Regions from separate parts of the Homo sapiens genome. Here region 2 is linked to region 1. Evidence: fine-mapped expression QTL. Tissue or cell type: whole blood. Region 1 holds a variant in brackets; the other region holds the start of a gene. All regions are shown on one strand. Distances are from middle to middle.

Region 1 (8,103 bases):
TTAAACATTGAATTACTATATTCCACTCCTAGGTAAATACCCAAACTAACCGAAAACAGGAATTCAAACAGATATTTGTGCATAAATGTTTATAACAGCATAATTCAACAATAACCAGAAGATAGAAACACCCCAAGGTCCATTAACAGATGAATAAGTAAACAACATGTGGTATATAGATATAATAAAATATCCAATCATAAAAAATGAAGTTCTGAACCTTGAAAATATTACACTAAGTGAAATAAGTCAAACAAAAAGGACAAATATTATATGATTTCATTTGAATGAGGGACCTGTAATAGGCAAATTCATAGAGACAGAAAGTAGAATAGATAACCTAATGGTTTGGAGGCAAGGAGAGCGGGGAATTATTGCTTAAAGGAAACAGAGTTTTTGTTTGGGTTGGTGAAAAAGTCTTGGAAATAGATAATGTGACGGTTGTACAACATTGTGAATGTAACTAACATTACCGAATTATACATTTAAAAATGGTTAAAATGGCACATTTTATGTTATCTATCATCACCACAACTTAAAATAATGAATAATAGAGCAAAACCCCTTGAATTGTACACTTTAAATGGCTGAAGTTATGGTATGTGGATTATATCTCAGTAAGGCTGTTAGGGAAAAAAAAAAAAGCATTGTAGGAAGTAGTTGGGAAATGTGTTAGTTCAACCCCATCATTTTCTGTAGGGGGAGAAAGCAGCAACAATGCATGTGCCAGTGAATTCCACTCTTGCAATCAATAGGTTGGTAAGTACAGCAGTTATCTGCAAAACTCTGTATTATTTCTATTATTAATGTGACATTTCCCAGGCACAGTAAGAATAGAAGGGCTGAAATTACATTCATTGTCCCCACATGGGAGAGAAGAACCTCCTGAAATCATGGGTTCTAGGCAAAAATGTCCAAATCTCCACCCATAATGGGACAGGAAGCAGGGTACATGAGCTAGCTCTGGAATGTGAGATTCTTTCCTGAAGAAGGAGGAATGATGAAACTGAGGGAGTAAATGAAGTCCTCCAACTTGCACGAGAGCTGGGTTACAAAACTCACTGAAGTGCTCAGTGGATAATTATTAGTGGAGATCACAGAGGCAGTTAGCAAATCAGTGGATGGTCACATGTCAGAGGCCTGAAAAATGAGAGCAAGACTCAGTGATTTTGGGGTAAGTAGGGTAGAGGAGGGACAGGGGAGGATTTCTCAGCAATTTCGTATAATAATAACCACTCGTGGTTTGTTTTCTGGTAGACACACATCTCTCAACAATTCATTAGTTCACTCCATCCACAGCTCCTCTATTCTCTAGCAGTTTGCCTCCCTCACCCCACCAAATCCCATACCCCGCTTATGAAAAGTTGAGGATTATTTCTTGGACTGATTCAAGGTCACAGAGATATTTGAATGCCATATGGCTAAAAATACAGATCCAATCTGCCTTCCAGTCCAGTGACTCATCCTGTCACTAGAGGTAGAGAGCAAGAGCATGAAGTGGAAGTACTAGACTTCCAACAGCGATATAGACTACTCCAATCCCTGAGGCAGAGGTAAGGGTCTGACTTAGAGAGGCATTTATGAATTCATGGGAAGTAGCTCTTCTTCCATGTTTGGAAGAGCTTCTCAAACATGCCAAGTCTTATGCAAAACAAACTTGAGAAAGCTCCACACCCAACCTACTGTTTGATTGGGAGAGGCCTACATAGCAGTGGTAGGGTTTGGGGATGGGGTAGGATGAGGGATGGATCCCTGCTCCAAACCTATATCTTTAAGCTAGTCTGACTTATCCAAGCACCAGGCATCAGAAAAGCCTCAAATACTTGAACTCCAATCCCAGAAAACATCCATCTAAGCCCTTCCTGATTTAGCTGCAAACTGTGTTCATCTAGGTTGCGTTTTGTTTCTGACCTGTTTCTGACCTATCTCTTTTCTTATTTGTAGCATTGCTCTTGCCTCCAGAATTCCCAATTGATCCTCATTTTTCAGCTTGACTCTCAGCTTTGCTTAAGAATTCTGTTTAAATTCACTTTGGATCTTCCTGCTCCTTGCTGCCCCATCCCAGTTCAGTCCTTAGAACTTAAATCCTGACAGTGATATACTTGGCTGATGCTTCAACCAGGACCACCAGGTTTAGTCATAAGCGTGAAAGGAAGCAAGTTACACTGCGCCATCTTATCCACATGGATTTCATGAAAGGGCCCGATAACTTATTAAAATCCATCCTCTCTTCTCCGGACTCTTAATATTGAGAACTGAAACCATTTACTCCTACACAGCTTACTATCTACGTTAACATGACTTTAATTTCAATTGTCTTCACATCCCAAGACTTTGTGCTCCTGGCTTCAAAACGACCTCTTTTCTTTTTTCACCAATCCTAATATTCTATCATAGCCCTTACCCTATCCTAATTAAGCCCTCTCTATTGCACTCACCCCTGCTCTGACAGACCTGCCTTAAACTAGACTTCAAAATCTGAATAAATCAAATCTTGTTCATTCTCCTCCAAGAAACTACCATATTATGTCTCCCTTATCACTGTAAGAAATAAAATAATCTTTTTCTTATCAATAAGTTGTTCTGGTAATATTTAGGGACTTGGAATTTGATCAGTTTCCTGATATTATTTCCTACAGATTACAGAAAATGTAATACTGCATTGGGAGGGCAGTGACTTAATAACCTCAAGCTTCCCTTATAAAGAATATCAAATAAAGTGAATAGCGGTTTCTGGAATACAACCTGAACTCCAGTTTAACTTTTTAATTGATGTATAATGTTGCCTTTCCTGTTCTAGCCCATTTGTAATTTTTAGGTATCATTAAAACTTTTCTTAGACCAGTAAAACTCTCCATCTACTTGCTGAAATTTCTGCTCTATATTTTTTAGCATAGACTTTGAGATAGTTTTTAAACACTGCCTCCAAGAAGCCAGCAGCTAGTGGGTTTGACAGCTATTTCCTCTGTGCTCGAGTCAGTGCCAGAGTAGCTTCTGTAGGTAATCTCCCTGCATGGCTGGCTGGCAATATCATTTTGATATAAGATATTCTCTAAGGAAGAGTTTCCATAAATAGGCTTGCTGCTAGAGCTGGTGGAGGCGTCTTGCCTAGTAATTAAGTTTTCTTGTACAAGGAGTTATATGGTTTTGTATGTGCACAAGTGAAAGTGCATAAGACATGCGTGGGCAGGTATGCTTTCAACTTGTTAGTGATGTTCTCAACTAGGAGTTCATGCTTCAGGGAGTAGGAAATGATTGCTTATTCTACCATTTCAGAATTTGCATAATATATCTGGGGAAAATATTTTTAAATGTACTATGACCTTTTTATCTTGTAAGGAGTGAAGGAAATCCTTATCCTATTCCAATTTGAATTATGTTCAGCCTCAAACGGTACCATAAGATGGTATGGTAGGTGCAGGGAGACAGCACTGTTAACACATAGTTCACATGCATAGTCTGAAAGTGTCTGTTTTCTGACCTTTAATTTTCCATGACCAGGACAGTATTATACACAGCTATTTCTTAACATAAACTTATCTGACGATTTCCACTGTCCTGCTTTTGTGCTCCAGATCTTTAACAGGTGGCAAAGAAGACAAATATGATGAGACCACATGAATGCTGCCCAACTTTTCAGTGATTATTAAGTGCAAATATCCTCCTTGTAAGACATATGTTTTCTTAGTTTCAAGATAGTGAAAGGACTAAGACCAATTTTGTAGACATACGAGAATACTAGAAATTGAATTACACTAAGGATCATTTATATTGAGTCAACCAGTTTTTTCTAATGTGGTCTTCTGTAAAATTTAGCTAAAATATTTCAGCTGTTTCACAAGTGTTTGGTTTTAATTTAATTTTGAAATGTGTTTTAGCTTTTAAAAATGTGAATACACAGCAGCACACAAACTTAAATGTGTCCTCTACTATCTTAGTCTGCTTG[C/T]GTTCCTGTAACAAGATGCCACAGACTGGGTAATTTATAAATAAGAGAGATGTATTTCTTACAGTTCTGAAGGCTGGGAGATCTAAAATCAAGGTGCTGGCAGGTTTGGTGTCTGTTTGGCGGTGTTTGTTGTTTGCTGTTCTTTCTGTATCCAAGATGGCATCTTGCTGTGTGCTCCAGAAGGGACAAATGCTGTGTCCTCACATAGGTGAAGGCAGATGAATAAAAAGAGACAAACTCTCTCTGAAGGCTCTTCTGTAAGGGCATTAATCCGTTCATGAGGGAGAGCCTTCATGACTTAATCACTTCCCAAAGGGTCCGAAACTCTTAATACCACCATAACGGGGATTAAGTTGCAACACATGAATTTTGGAGGGGAACCATTCAAACCATAGCATCTACCAATTTTTTAAAACACATTTTAGACTACCAAAGTATTAATTTTTATACAACTTGGAATAGATGTTCTCCTCTGAAGTCTCTGTGTAACTGAAGAATAACCTAAGAATGCAAGGCTGTAAGGGAATAAGTTTGTGTTTTTCCAAGCCACTAAGTTTGTGGTAATTTGTTTCAATAGGTACAGGAAGTAATACACACCCCCGTATCAAGTATGGAGCTTCTAGGCTTATAGTCTGCCACCAAGTTCTTAGGGTGTCAGGTCACCATCCTCCCTACCTGAAGATTTTTATTGCATCCTTCCACCTTTATACTTTAGCCTTTAATAAAATGTGCTTCCTTTTACTTTGTCTTCCTTTCTGGAGAGGGTTTCCCTTTTATCATGTTTCTTTCTAAAGAGACATTCATCATTCCCATTTCCTGGGACTACATTGGTGGAATGGCTGCAGGGGAACATAATTAGATATTGGAAACATAATTGTGTATGAGATATCAAGGAAAAATACAGATCTGCATAGCGTTACAATGTTAAAATTACTAGCTTAATTTCTGTCCTCATACAAGATATGAGCTCTAAGAATTCTGGGATTCCCATGCCTATTTTCTTTACTGCCATATCTCCAACCTCTAGCACAGGGCCTGTTATCCAATACATAATTGCTAGAAAGTCAAGGAATAAGATGATCAAACCAATGGGTGATGAATGATTGGCACTGGGGTCCTTTGGAGGACTTTGAGCAGAGGATTGAAGCAGTAAGATTTGCAGGTTATTAAATGTCTTCAAGCTATCACAGTCACCATAAGGAAAGGTCTGTATTATCCAAAATTATATTTATTAAATTAATTATCAAGTACACATACTACAGAGGAAGAATTCTCTACTATAAATATTCAAATCCATGAACAGTCTCCTGAGAAGAGCTAAGGAAGCTTCACAAAGTTTAAACTGCCTTCATTCCCCCAACTATATCCCCTCTTTATTTTCTTCTCCAGGACACTGGGGCCCTTTAGTCAGCTGAACTAGCTAGCCATGGGGACTCTTTCAGAGCATTTCAGCTGAGATTTGAGTAGCCAGCCCACTCTGCCGTGATATTTGCATTTCATACTAAATTGGTCTATAACATTATAAATTTCACACTCCTACATTTCTGTTATAACATCATAATCATAAAAATGACATTTTGGTCTTCTCTTTTGCAAGTGAAATGAACATTTCCACATATAAATAGAGGAGAAAACTTGTTGGTCATTTTCCTAAAATGTTGAGGGCTTGACGCAAGCCTGAGGTTTAATTTCTCAGTGTCTGGGAGGAGCCACTGGTTTGTGCAGGTTTCTCAGTGTACCTAAGAGCTGCTGAGACTCATGCTTCAGGTCTCTTGGATCAGGGGATAACCCGGTTGACTCGTTTTTTGGTAAAACAGAGGGAACCTGAGATCAGACACACCATTTGGTGTTTTATCTCCTGAAACGGTTTACCATCTCTTGTTCCTTACCCTTACAGGATTTCCAACAGAAGGCCAGAGTGCTGAAGCCTCTTCACTGAAGGAGGCACCCAGAATCCTGTGGGCCTAGTGTGTTAAATAAAGAGAGTGCAGGACTTTGTGGCCAGCGCTCACCTCCAGAGCAAAATCAAGAGATACGTCAGGAAAGGGGCTGGAAGGAAGCAAAGGGGACCCAAATACATTTTCAAAAAATCAGGGACATTTACACCCGGTATTTATGAAGATTTCTAATAATGGTATGATAGTTATCTTATGGAATTTAGCCATCAGGGAACTCATGTTTGAGCAGGACAAAGAAACTAATAAATTTTTCAAACAAGATCAGGGACATGGAGAGGAGCTGGCCTAGTTGACCTTGTTGGCATCTTTAAACATTTTTTAATTTTTAAAATTAAAAAAAAAAAGATTCATAAACCTGTTCAGTGTCAGAAGGGTGAGAACTAGATTGGGAAACTGCATCCCAATTTGAGATGTATCTAGGCAAGAAGCCAGCCTGGGAAGATATTGGTGGAAGCTGGAAACGAGGGCAAGAAGCCAAACCCTCAGCCTATAGAACATAAAATTAACTTTTTCAGGGTTATCTTGAAAGGACTAAGGTTTCCATCTCATTCCATCCTAAGAGAAAGAAAAGTGTAAGTCTTTATGTTATGAAGGTAAGGGCAGCTATTTCTTCAGACATTGATTGAGGCTGTAGAAAAGCCAGTGATCTGCTCCACCCCAGACCAACTGAATTGAACATCTGCAAGATGGGGCCCAGAAATATGATTTAATGTGTGATTCTCAGGGATGCAATAGGGGTTGAGAAGCATTTGCCTTAGTCATGTGCCTTATCCTTTCCTTCCATTTACTCCTCAACCCACTCTTCCAGAAGCGATGGCTCTCATAAGGTTCAAAAATGACCTCTGTGCCAAGCAATCCAATAACAATTTTCCCCCTTGGTAATATTCCACCTGTTTACCATTTCCTCCCTTAGTTTAGATAATTTCTTTATTGTTTTCTGTAAAATTATATATACTTATTACAAAAATTAATAATAGAATATAGACTTGAATAATGTAACAAGAAAATCACCCCAAATCCCATCACTCAGAAGCAACTGTTTTGTTTTGTTTTGTTTTTTTGAGACAGGGTCTCCCTCTGTTGCCCAGGCTGGAGTGCAGTGGTGTGATCATGGCTCACTGCAGCCTTGGTTTCCCAGGCTCAAGCAATCCTCCTGCCGCAGCCTCCTGAGTAGCTGGGACTACAGGTGTGCACCACTGAGCCTGGCTAATTTTTTATTTTTATTTTTAGTAGAGACAAGGTCTTGCTATGTTGCCCAGTCTGGTCTTGAACTCCTAAGCTCAAGTGATCCTTCCATCTCAGCCTCCCAAGGTGCTGGGATTATAGGTGTGAGTCACTGCACCCAGCCAGCAGTAACTGTTTTTAACATTTGCAAAATCCACGACTCTCAAACAAAATTGGGCACGAGGGCCTGGAGAAGTATAGAGACCTTTCAAAATAGAACTCCCTGTACTCTCCTACACAGGAAGGGAAAACCTCCCTCTGAGCTACAGTAATGCTGGTGAAATACCAGCTTTATGAATTGTCTTCTTTTCAAGGATACTAGGATTTGTTCTTAAAAAGGCTGGCCAAGATACCAAATACACATGGCCATTGTATTTACTGATAGCAAAAGAAGCCAACATCCAAGCACCCACACAAACTTCCCCTACTACTAGCTTCAGTTAGTATAGTTTAGCGGTGTGCTCCCATTGTTAGAGTAGGCAGATAGCCAGACATGAGCAGGAGGGTGAGCCCCTGAGGAAAGGGAGGTCTAGAAAATCTCACACGCCAGAGACCACCCCAAACATGCATACTAGGTATGAGCAGAGAGGAGGGGAAATAGCTATGCAGAAAGGAACACTCTGAAATGCTACCTTAAGATGCCCAGTAATCGCTCACTCTGCAGTTAACCTGTCAGAATGTAGCTAGCTACATGCTGATAAGGAGGGGAAGAGAGCAAGGGGAAAAATGTCCTAAGATATACACTGGTGCATTAAGTATAGATGTGACCACTCTACAACATTTCTGAGGTGGCAGTAATGAGCGATGCAGGTGAAATTCATATCCAACACCGGGCCCACGCACGCAGACCAACTAACAGTAAGGGAGGCTCCCACAGGCCTGGATGGGAGCTAGGTGGGGATAAAGGCAGGGACTTAAGGCAGTAGTGGAAAAACTAGACAGAGAAAAAAGGTAGAGACTTAAGACAGAGGTGGG
Region 2 (8,103 bases), 290 kb after region 1:
GACAGACAGAATAGAGGAAAAAACAAAAAATTGCAGTCTTGCTGTATTTCAAAGGGGACACCAACCCGTCTACCCCATTGCAGAGAAGCTTGAAGACACACCCACCCTTGGCTCCGAGCTATCCAGCAACAGGGCCAGCAGGTCCAAGTAATGCTCTGCAGCGTCTCCTGCCCTGAGGAGTAAAAGCCCATAAGCCTCACCCTAGGCCCTAGCAGGGAACCTGCAAGGGTCCTGAGAATGTTCTCTCTTAGCTAACAGATGGATGTTCATGGGCCCTGAGGAGGAGAAAGGGAGGGAAGGTCTTAGGGCTCCAATTTTGGCTCAGTATGGATCTACCCCAGTTACAGAATGGACTGGGGAAGAGACTTCAGAGTGTCAAAGATAGAGAAGGTTAATGTCTTAGAGAAGAGTCCTCAGTTCAGGTCTAGAAGCAAGGTAAGAGGCTGAGGAGTGGCGACCTATGTCCTGCCACTGCCTCATTCATCCCCCAAGTCACAAGAACAAAAGCAGAGTCACACCCCAGGGGAGGCATCAGAAGTGGGAAGAGAAGCTCAGGTGAGCAAGGGGAACCTCACCTCCCCGTCTGTAGGCACCTGCTTGCTAGTATGTGCTTGGTCTGGCTCTGAGTGCCACAATGAAGGGGTGAGGCTAGGTCAGGTGGTGGCAGTAGTAATTCTACCTCAATGAGAAACTGCGGGGCTTTGGAACTGCATGGGACATTCAAGGCCTAAAAGAGAAAGAAAAAAATTGTATCTATAATCTTTGGGAGCCATACTTCCTTATACTTGGATCTTGACTAGTCAAGTCACCCCATCACAAGCACCTCAGGAATCCTCCACCCCACATCTTCACCTGGCAGTTCCCTACCTCAACTAGCAGCTCCAGACTCTCCAGCTCTGCTGTTGTGTCCCCCAGTTGCTGATAGAGCCTAGAGGCCTCCAGAAGTGGAGGACCCCAGGCTGATCCCTCTTTCAGGGCTGCAACCAAGTACAACAGTGCTCTCTGTGGATTTCCCTAAAGGGATAGGAGGACACGGGCCTCAGCTACCCTTACAAAGCAAAAAGCTATACATAATGCTTGTGGTTTCCCCAATCCACCCTAGGACTGTCTTTACCATCTTACGGTGACAGGACCCCAGTGCTGTGTACACCTGGACCAACACAGGCCGTGGACACAGGCCTGAGGCCGCTTCATGAAGGCTGCTTAGTGCCTTGTCTGGGTTCCCTGTGATCAGCTCCTGGAGACCTGAGGACAGTCAGGGTGTGAGCTTGGAGAGGGCTATAGAGCAGGGGTCATGATGGGGAACAAGGGTCTAAGAAGCCCATGGAACTGAATGGGACAAGAGAGAGGGCATGAGTCTGGAGGACCACTTAAAGGTAGAAGAGATGAGTCAGGTTGCTAGCTGACCTTGGCGGTAGGCAAATGCTGTCAGGAGGACATCCTTCAATCCCTGGGCATCCTGCAGGGTCAATGGAGCATCTAATTCCTCAGCTGGGGGACTCCAAGTTTTCAGAAGTAACAGCAGATCCTTAGAGGCTCCACTCTGGGGAAAGAAGGACAACCAGAAGCTCCAAGCCTACAACCTCCTCGTCTTCTCCTATCTCCATCTATCCTGGCTAGACCTTGAGCTCAAGGGTCCTCTTGATCCTTGAGGACACAGGCCTCAGCTACCCTTACAAAGCAAGAAGCTATGCATAATGCCTGTAGTTTCCCCCAATTCTAAGAGATAGATAGCTATGAGGCAAGAATTAAAAAAAAGGAAGAAAAACCTGGGGCAGTGATGATCTATTCCAGCGTGCCTCCTCACTCAGGGCAAGGACCATATTTGAGTTACTAATAAGGAGACTAAGGCTGAGAGCTGACTTGAGCAAGATCACAAGAGCCCTATCCCTATCCAAAAAAAAATTTTTTTTTTTTTTGAGACAGGGTCTCCCTCTGTCACCCAGGCTGCAGGGCTGGAGTGCAGTGGCGTGATCATAGCTCACAACTCACTGTTGCCTCCACCTCTTGGGTTCAAGTGATCCTCCTACCTCAGCCTCCCAAAGTGCTGAGATTACAGGTATGAGCCACCATGCCTGTCCAATTTTTAAAAAACACTCCTAAGAGAATCCCCACAATGAGAGACCAACCAGGGCAAGGTCACCCAAGAGTCCCAGAGAGAATCCAGGTTTTCCGACCACCAACCCAGCCGCCTGTCCAGTACATGATGATGCTACTGCAGCTGGAGAGAAAGGAGGAGGAAGGAAGGAGGAGACCCTCAGCTTCAGGTCACTTTCCCTATTACCTGGCTGCCATTCAGGGTCTCTAGTAACAAGGCCAGGTCCCCAAGACGGTCAGCACTCAACCAGAGGGCAGCCTGCAGGCCAACCAGGCGGTGCAGGGCAGACAGCAGCTCCGGCAGAAGGCAGGAAGCACGAAGGACAGAGTCCCACAGCTCCCTGAGCCCCTGTTCCAACCTGGGCCCCTGCTGCTCCTGTGTCTCCAGCACTGTAGAGTATACACACACACATAGACACACACACAGCTGAAGTAGCACCTCATCCTCCATCTCCCCACACACTCTGGCTTTCCTCTCCTGCAGGACCCCAAAGGTCACAATAATAATACCTCAACCTGGTCTGAAGAGCACAGAGAAGGGCACCTCTCTCCATGGAGGTGACAGATGTTGTTTATCCTCCCATCTCCCTGCAATAACTTAAACCCAGACTGAAGATGGCAGGGGAATCAGGGACAATCTCTGGCCCTCACCTCTCTCTAGGCTCCGCTGGATATCCTGGGCCTGATCCTCTGTGAAACCCTGGGCCAAGCTTGCCCTCAGGATAATGAAGTTGCAGGTGACAGTCAGCTCCAAGGGAAGAACAGGAACAGCTGCAGGGAGCCCTGGAGCAACAATGTTGGTCTTACAGACTGCTCCCCCATGGAAGATCCTCCAAATAAAATCCCAACTCAGAGATCACCCCACTCCAACCAAAACAGCTACAATAAAGAACCCACCCTCCAGCCAATTAGCTAAGGATTTAAAAAAAGAACCCAACCTTTGGACAGAGAGTCTGGAAAGGGCAAAAAAGTTATCCAGATCAGACCATCTTGGAAACCATTTTTCAAATGCCACTCTGTGAGTGTGTAAGGAAGAGAGGGATTTGCCTGTACAAAGATGATTCCACTCCAGTCTCCTCTGTGCCTTAAACAGGACTCCCTGCCCCGAGTAATTATATCGATCCCAAAAACGCAGGAGCGGATGTTTCTCTGGCTATGGAAGAGGGGAACTGACCATCCTGGGGAGGACCCGCCTACCTTGCAGACTATGGAGGAGCCCTCTGAGCCCTTCCAGTGCATCCTGAGCCAACTGCTGTCGCCTCAGAGTCAGACCGGAGTTCTGAGCCACCTGCCACATGAGGGAGGGGTTGTCACTGAGGATCAATCCTTTTTTCTCCCCTTGCAGCAGTGGCAAGGGATGCATTCTCCAGTCATTTCTGGCTCTTTGGTCAAGCTCAGTCCCTCCCCATCGGTTGGGGTAAATCCACTGCAAACCCGCTTTCAGGGATCTTGAGGCTGCAAACCGAGGGTGCCAGCAACCGTGTTACCTTGGCCTGTCGAACGAGCCGGTCATTCTTTTCCCTCCACAGGTCCAGGCAGCTGGAGCCCACAGAGGTGGTCTGGCGGGACATGGTGGCCGAGGCTGGGCCCGGAGACCAGAAGCGGACTTAGGAAGGGTGAAGCTGGCCTGCCCAAGCTCCCAACCCCAGCGGGGAGGGGCCTGGGCACTTCTGCACCCCGCCGAGCTCCCCTGCTTCTCTCGGGGTCCCAATCCACCCGCCCAGGCTTTCCAGGACAGATGGGACGCTCTCTCCCCGCGGCCCGCCGGGCTCTCAACCTCGCCTCTGGTTGGCCGGGTCTGCGAAGCTCTGGGCTGCGGTTGGTCCTCTTGAAGAGTTAGTTCCCGCGGGAAACTCGGGGAGGAAACGAGTCAGCAACCCCAAACAGGCTTAGGCGGGCTAGAAGCCGGGGTCGTGTCTGACTGGGGCAGTCGCACGGCCGGCGGTGCGGCCCGCTCGGCTCTCGCGGAGGCCACAGCCTCGAGAAAGGGTGGGCGGGAGCGAGTTTCGGCCCCACAGTCCGTGGCTCGGCCCTTCCTCGCTGCCACACCCCCAGGTCCTCCTGGGTTCCCGCTTCCACCGAGGGCCGACTGCGAGGTGCATGCTGGGAGTCGTAGTACCGCACCGGGGCGGAACAGCTCCGCCCCGGCGGATGGTGTTTCCAGAAAGCGGTAACTGGAGACGAGGGCGCTCCGTAATCGTCCATCCTTTCTCTGCTCACTGTCGAGCACCAACACGCTCACCAAGGTCGGCTTTCTACCGCGTGTAGTCTGCTGGCAGTGCCGCTCTGTACTTGCACTGCTCAAAAGTACCTGCCCAATCATTTCAAATTAAATGGAGCTAGGAGAATTGAATATCCATATGCAAAAAAAAAAAAAAAAAAAGACAGGAAAGAAAAGAACGCGACCATACATACGTACATAAAATCAACTCAATGGATCACAAACTAAATATAAGAGCCAAAAATATAAAACTTCTAAAAGAAAACGTAAAGCAGCCTAACTAACATGGTGAAACCTTCTCTACAAAAATACAAAAATTAGCAGGGCGTGGTGTCGTGCGCCTGTAATCCCAGCTACCCCGGAGGCTGAGGCGGAAGAATCGCTTGAACCCGGGTGGCGGAGGTTGCAGTGAGCCGACATCGTGCCATTGCACTCCAGCCTGGGTGACAGAGTGAGACTCCGTCTCAAAAAAAAAAAAAAAAGAAAACGTAAGAGAACAGCTTTATGACCTTGGGTTTGGCAACAAGTTGTTAGACACAGCACTAAAAGCTTGTACAATTTAAAAAAAAGTTAACTTTATTAAAATTAAAAACTCTTGTACTACAAAGACATCATTAAGAAGTCATACGCTGGGGCCGGGCGCCGTGGCTCACGCCTGTGATCCCAGCACTTTGGGAGACCGAGGCGGGCGGATCACGAGGTCAGGAGATCGAGACCATCATGGCTAACACGGTGAAACCCCGTCTCTACTAAAAATACAAAAAATTAGCCGGGCGATGTGGCGGGCGCCTGTAGTCCCAGCTACTCGGGAGGCTGAGGCAGGAGAAAGGCGTGAACCCCGCGGGCCAGAGCCTGCAGTGAGCCGAGATCGCCCCACTGCACTCCAGCCTGCGCAACAGCGAGACTCCATCTCAAAAAAAAAAGAAAAGAAAAGAAAAGAAAAGAAGAAAAATCATAGGCTGGATGTGGCTCATGCTGTAATCCCAGCACTTTGGGAGGCTGAGGCTGGAGGATTCCCTGAAGCCAGGAGTTCAAGACCAGCCTAGGCAACAAAGATGGTGTCTTTTGTAGAGACATTATCTCTACAAAAAATTTAAAACATTAACCCTGGCACAATAACACACCTGTAGACCCAGCTACTTGGGAGGCTGAGGTGGGAGGAGCCCTTGAGCCTAGGAGTTCCAGGTTGCAGTGAGCCATGATCACACCACTGCCCTCCAGCCTGAGTAACAGAGTGAGACCCTGCCTCAAAAAAAGAAAGGTCACAGTCACAGAGTGGGAGAAACTACTTGCTAATTATATACCTCATAAGGGACTGGTATCCCTAACACATAAAAACTCCCAAAACTCAAGAAAAAGATTTTTAAAAACAATCTTAGCTGGGTGTGGTGGTTCATGCCTGTTATCCCAGCACTTTGGGAGGCTGAGGTGGGAGGATCATTTGAGCCTCAGAAGTTTAAGACCTGCCTGGGCAACATAGCAAAACCCCACCTCTACAAAAAAAATACAAAAATTAGCTGGGCATGGTGGCACACACCTGTAGTCCCATCTACTCGGGAAACTTAGGTGGGAGGATCACCTGAGCTCAGGGATGTCGAAGCTGCAGTGAGCCATGATTGAGCCACTGCACTCCAGCGTGGGCAACAAAGTGAGACCCTGTCTCAAAACAAAACAAAAAACAATTTTAAGATGGACCAAAAAAAAAAAAAAAGACATTTTACCAAAAAAGATCTACTAATGGCTAAGAAACACATAAAAAGATGCTCGGCATTATTAGCTATTAGAGAAACACAGTTAAAAACATGGCCAGGGCCGGGCCATGTTATGCCTGTAATCCCAGCACTTTGGGAGGCTGAGGTGGATGGATCACTTGAGGTCAGGAGTTCAAGACCAGCATGGCCAACTTGGTGAAACCTCGTCTCTACTAAAAATACAAAAATTAGGCAGGCATGGTGGTGCATGCCTGTAATCCCAGCTACCTGGGAAGCTGAGGTGGGAGAATGGCTTGAACCCGGAAGGTGGAGGTTGCAGTGAGCCGAGATCCTGCCACTGAACTCTAGCCTAGGTGACACAGCGAGACTTCGTCTCAAAAAATAAAAAAACGCTTCACACAGCCGGGCGTGGTGGCTCACACCTTTAATCCCAGCACTTTGGGAGGCTGAGGCAGGTGGATCACTTGAGGCCAGGAGTTTGAGACCAGCCAAGCCAACAGGGCAAAACCCTGTCTCTACTGCAAATACAAAAATTAGCTGGGCATGGTGGCAGACACCTGTAATCCCAGCTACTCAGGAGGCTGAGGCATGACAATCACTTGAACCTGGGAAACGGAGGTTGCAGTGAGCTGAGACCATGCCACTGCACTCCAGCCTGGGTGACAGAGTGAGACTCTGTCTCAAAAATAAATAAATAAAAATAAAAACACTATACACATACATACATAAAATGACTACAATAAAAACAGATTATACCAAGTGTTGGTGAGGATGTGTATGAGGAACCCTCATACACTGCTGGTGGGAATATAAAATAGTACACTCACTTCAGAAAAGTTTGGCAGTTTCTTAAAAAGTTAATCATAGGCCGGGCGCAGTGGCTTATTCCTGTAATCCCAGCACTTTGGGAGGCCAAGGCAGGTGAATCACGATGTCAGTAGATCGAGACCATCCTGGCTAACACAGTGAAACCCCGTCTCTACTAAAAATACAAAAAATTAGCCAGGCGTGGTGGCGGGCACCTGTAGTCCCAGCTACTCAAGAGGCTGAGGCAGGAGAATGGCGTGAACCCAGGAAGTGGAGCTTGCAGTGAGCCAAGACCCCGCCACTGCACTCCAGCCTGGGTGACAGAGCAAGACTCCATCTCAAAAAAAAAAAAAGAAAAAAAAGTCAATCACAAATTTACCATAAGACTCAGCAATTCCACTCCAAAGAATACTCCCAAGAGAAATGAAAACATACGTCCACACTGAGATTTGTTGCAAATACTCATAGTAGCTAAAAATGTTCATAATAGCTAAAAACTGAAAACAATCAAAATGTCCATCAGTTGGTCAAAGCCAATGATTTAGCAATGAAAAGGGGCAAAAGAGTGCACCAACAAACTTTTTTTTTTTTGAGACGGAGTCTCGCTCTGTTGCCCGGGCTGGAGTGCAGTGGCGCAATCTCGGCTCACTGCAACCTCCGCCTCCTGGGTTCAAGCAATTCTCCTACCTCAGCCTCCCGAGTAACTGGGATTACAGGTGCACACCACCACGCCCAGCTAACTTTTTTGTATTTTAGTAGAGACGGGGTTTCACCATGTTGCCCAGGCTGGTCTCGAACTCCTGAGCTCAGGCAATCCACTGGCCTCGGCCTTCCAAAGTGCTAGGATTACAAACTTATAAAGATTGAAAACAGGCTGGGTACAGTGGCTCATGCCTGTAATCCTAGCTCTTTGGGAGGCCAAGGTGGGCGGATCACGAGGTCAAGAGATTGAGACCATCCTGGCCAACATGGTGAAACCCCGTCTCTACTAAAAATACAAAAATTAGCCAGGCGTCGTGGTGCACACCTGTAATCCCAGCTACTCGGGAGGCCGAGGCAGTAGAATCCCTTGAACCCAGGAGGCTGAGGTTGCAGTGAGCCGAGATCGCGCCACTGCACTCCAGCCTGGGCGACAGAGCAAGACTGTCTCAAAAAAAAAAAAAAAAAAAAAAAAAAGATTGAAAACAGGCCAGGCTCATGCCTGTAATCCCAGCACTTTGGGGGACTGAGGTGGGCGGATCACCAGAGGGCAGGAGACCAGCCTGG

The links. PIP is the estimated chance that this variant, and not a neighbour inherited with it, causes the effect.
Region 2: FANCG starts here. The variant in region 1 is fine-mapped to the expression of FANCG in whole blood (TOPMed, PIP above 0.99).

Annotation. Positions count from the first base shown.
Region 1 is chr9:34,781,091-34,789,193 of GRCh38, forward strand. It overlaps a transcript of PHF24 not described here. Among named protein-coding and RNA genes, the nearest start is that of SPATA31F1, 56 kb to the left of the region's middle. The variant C/T (reference allele first, on the strand shown) is at 3,947.
Region 2 is chr9:35,075,857-35,083,959 of GRCh38, forward strand. FANCG (FA complementation group G) reads right to left here and starts at 4,086. Exons shown (of 14, transcript NM_004629.2): 1 at 3,585-4,086; 2 at 3,295-3,385; 3 at 2,749-2,880; 4 at 2,285-2,487; 5 at 1,408-1,543; 6 at 1,115-1,245; 7 at 868-1,014; 8 at 576-727; 9 at 106-172. The coding sequence starts at 3,668. RefSeq lists enhancers at 3,108-3,715, 4,932-5,538 and a silencer at 3,791-3,956.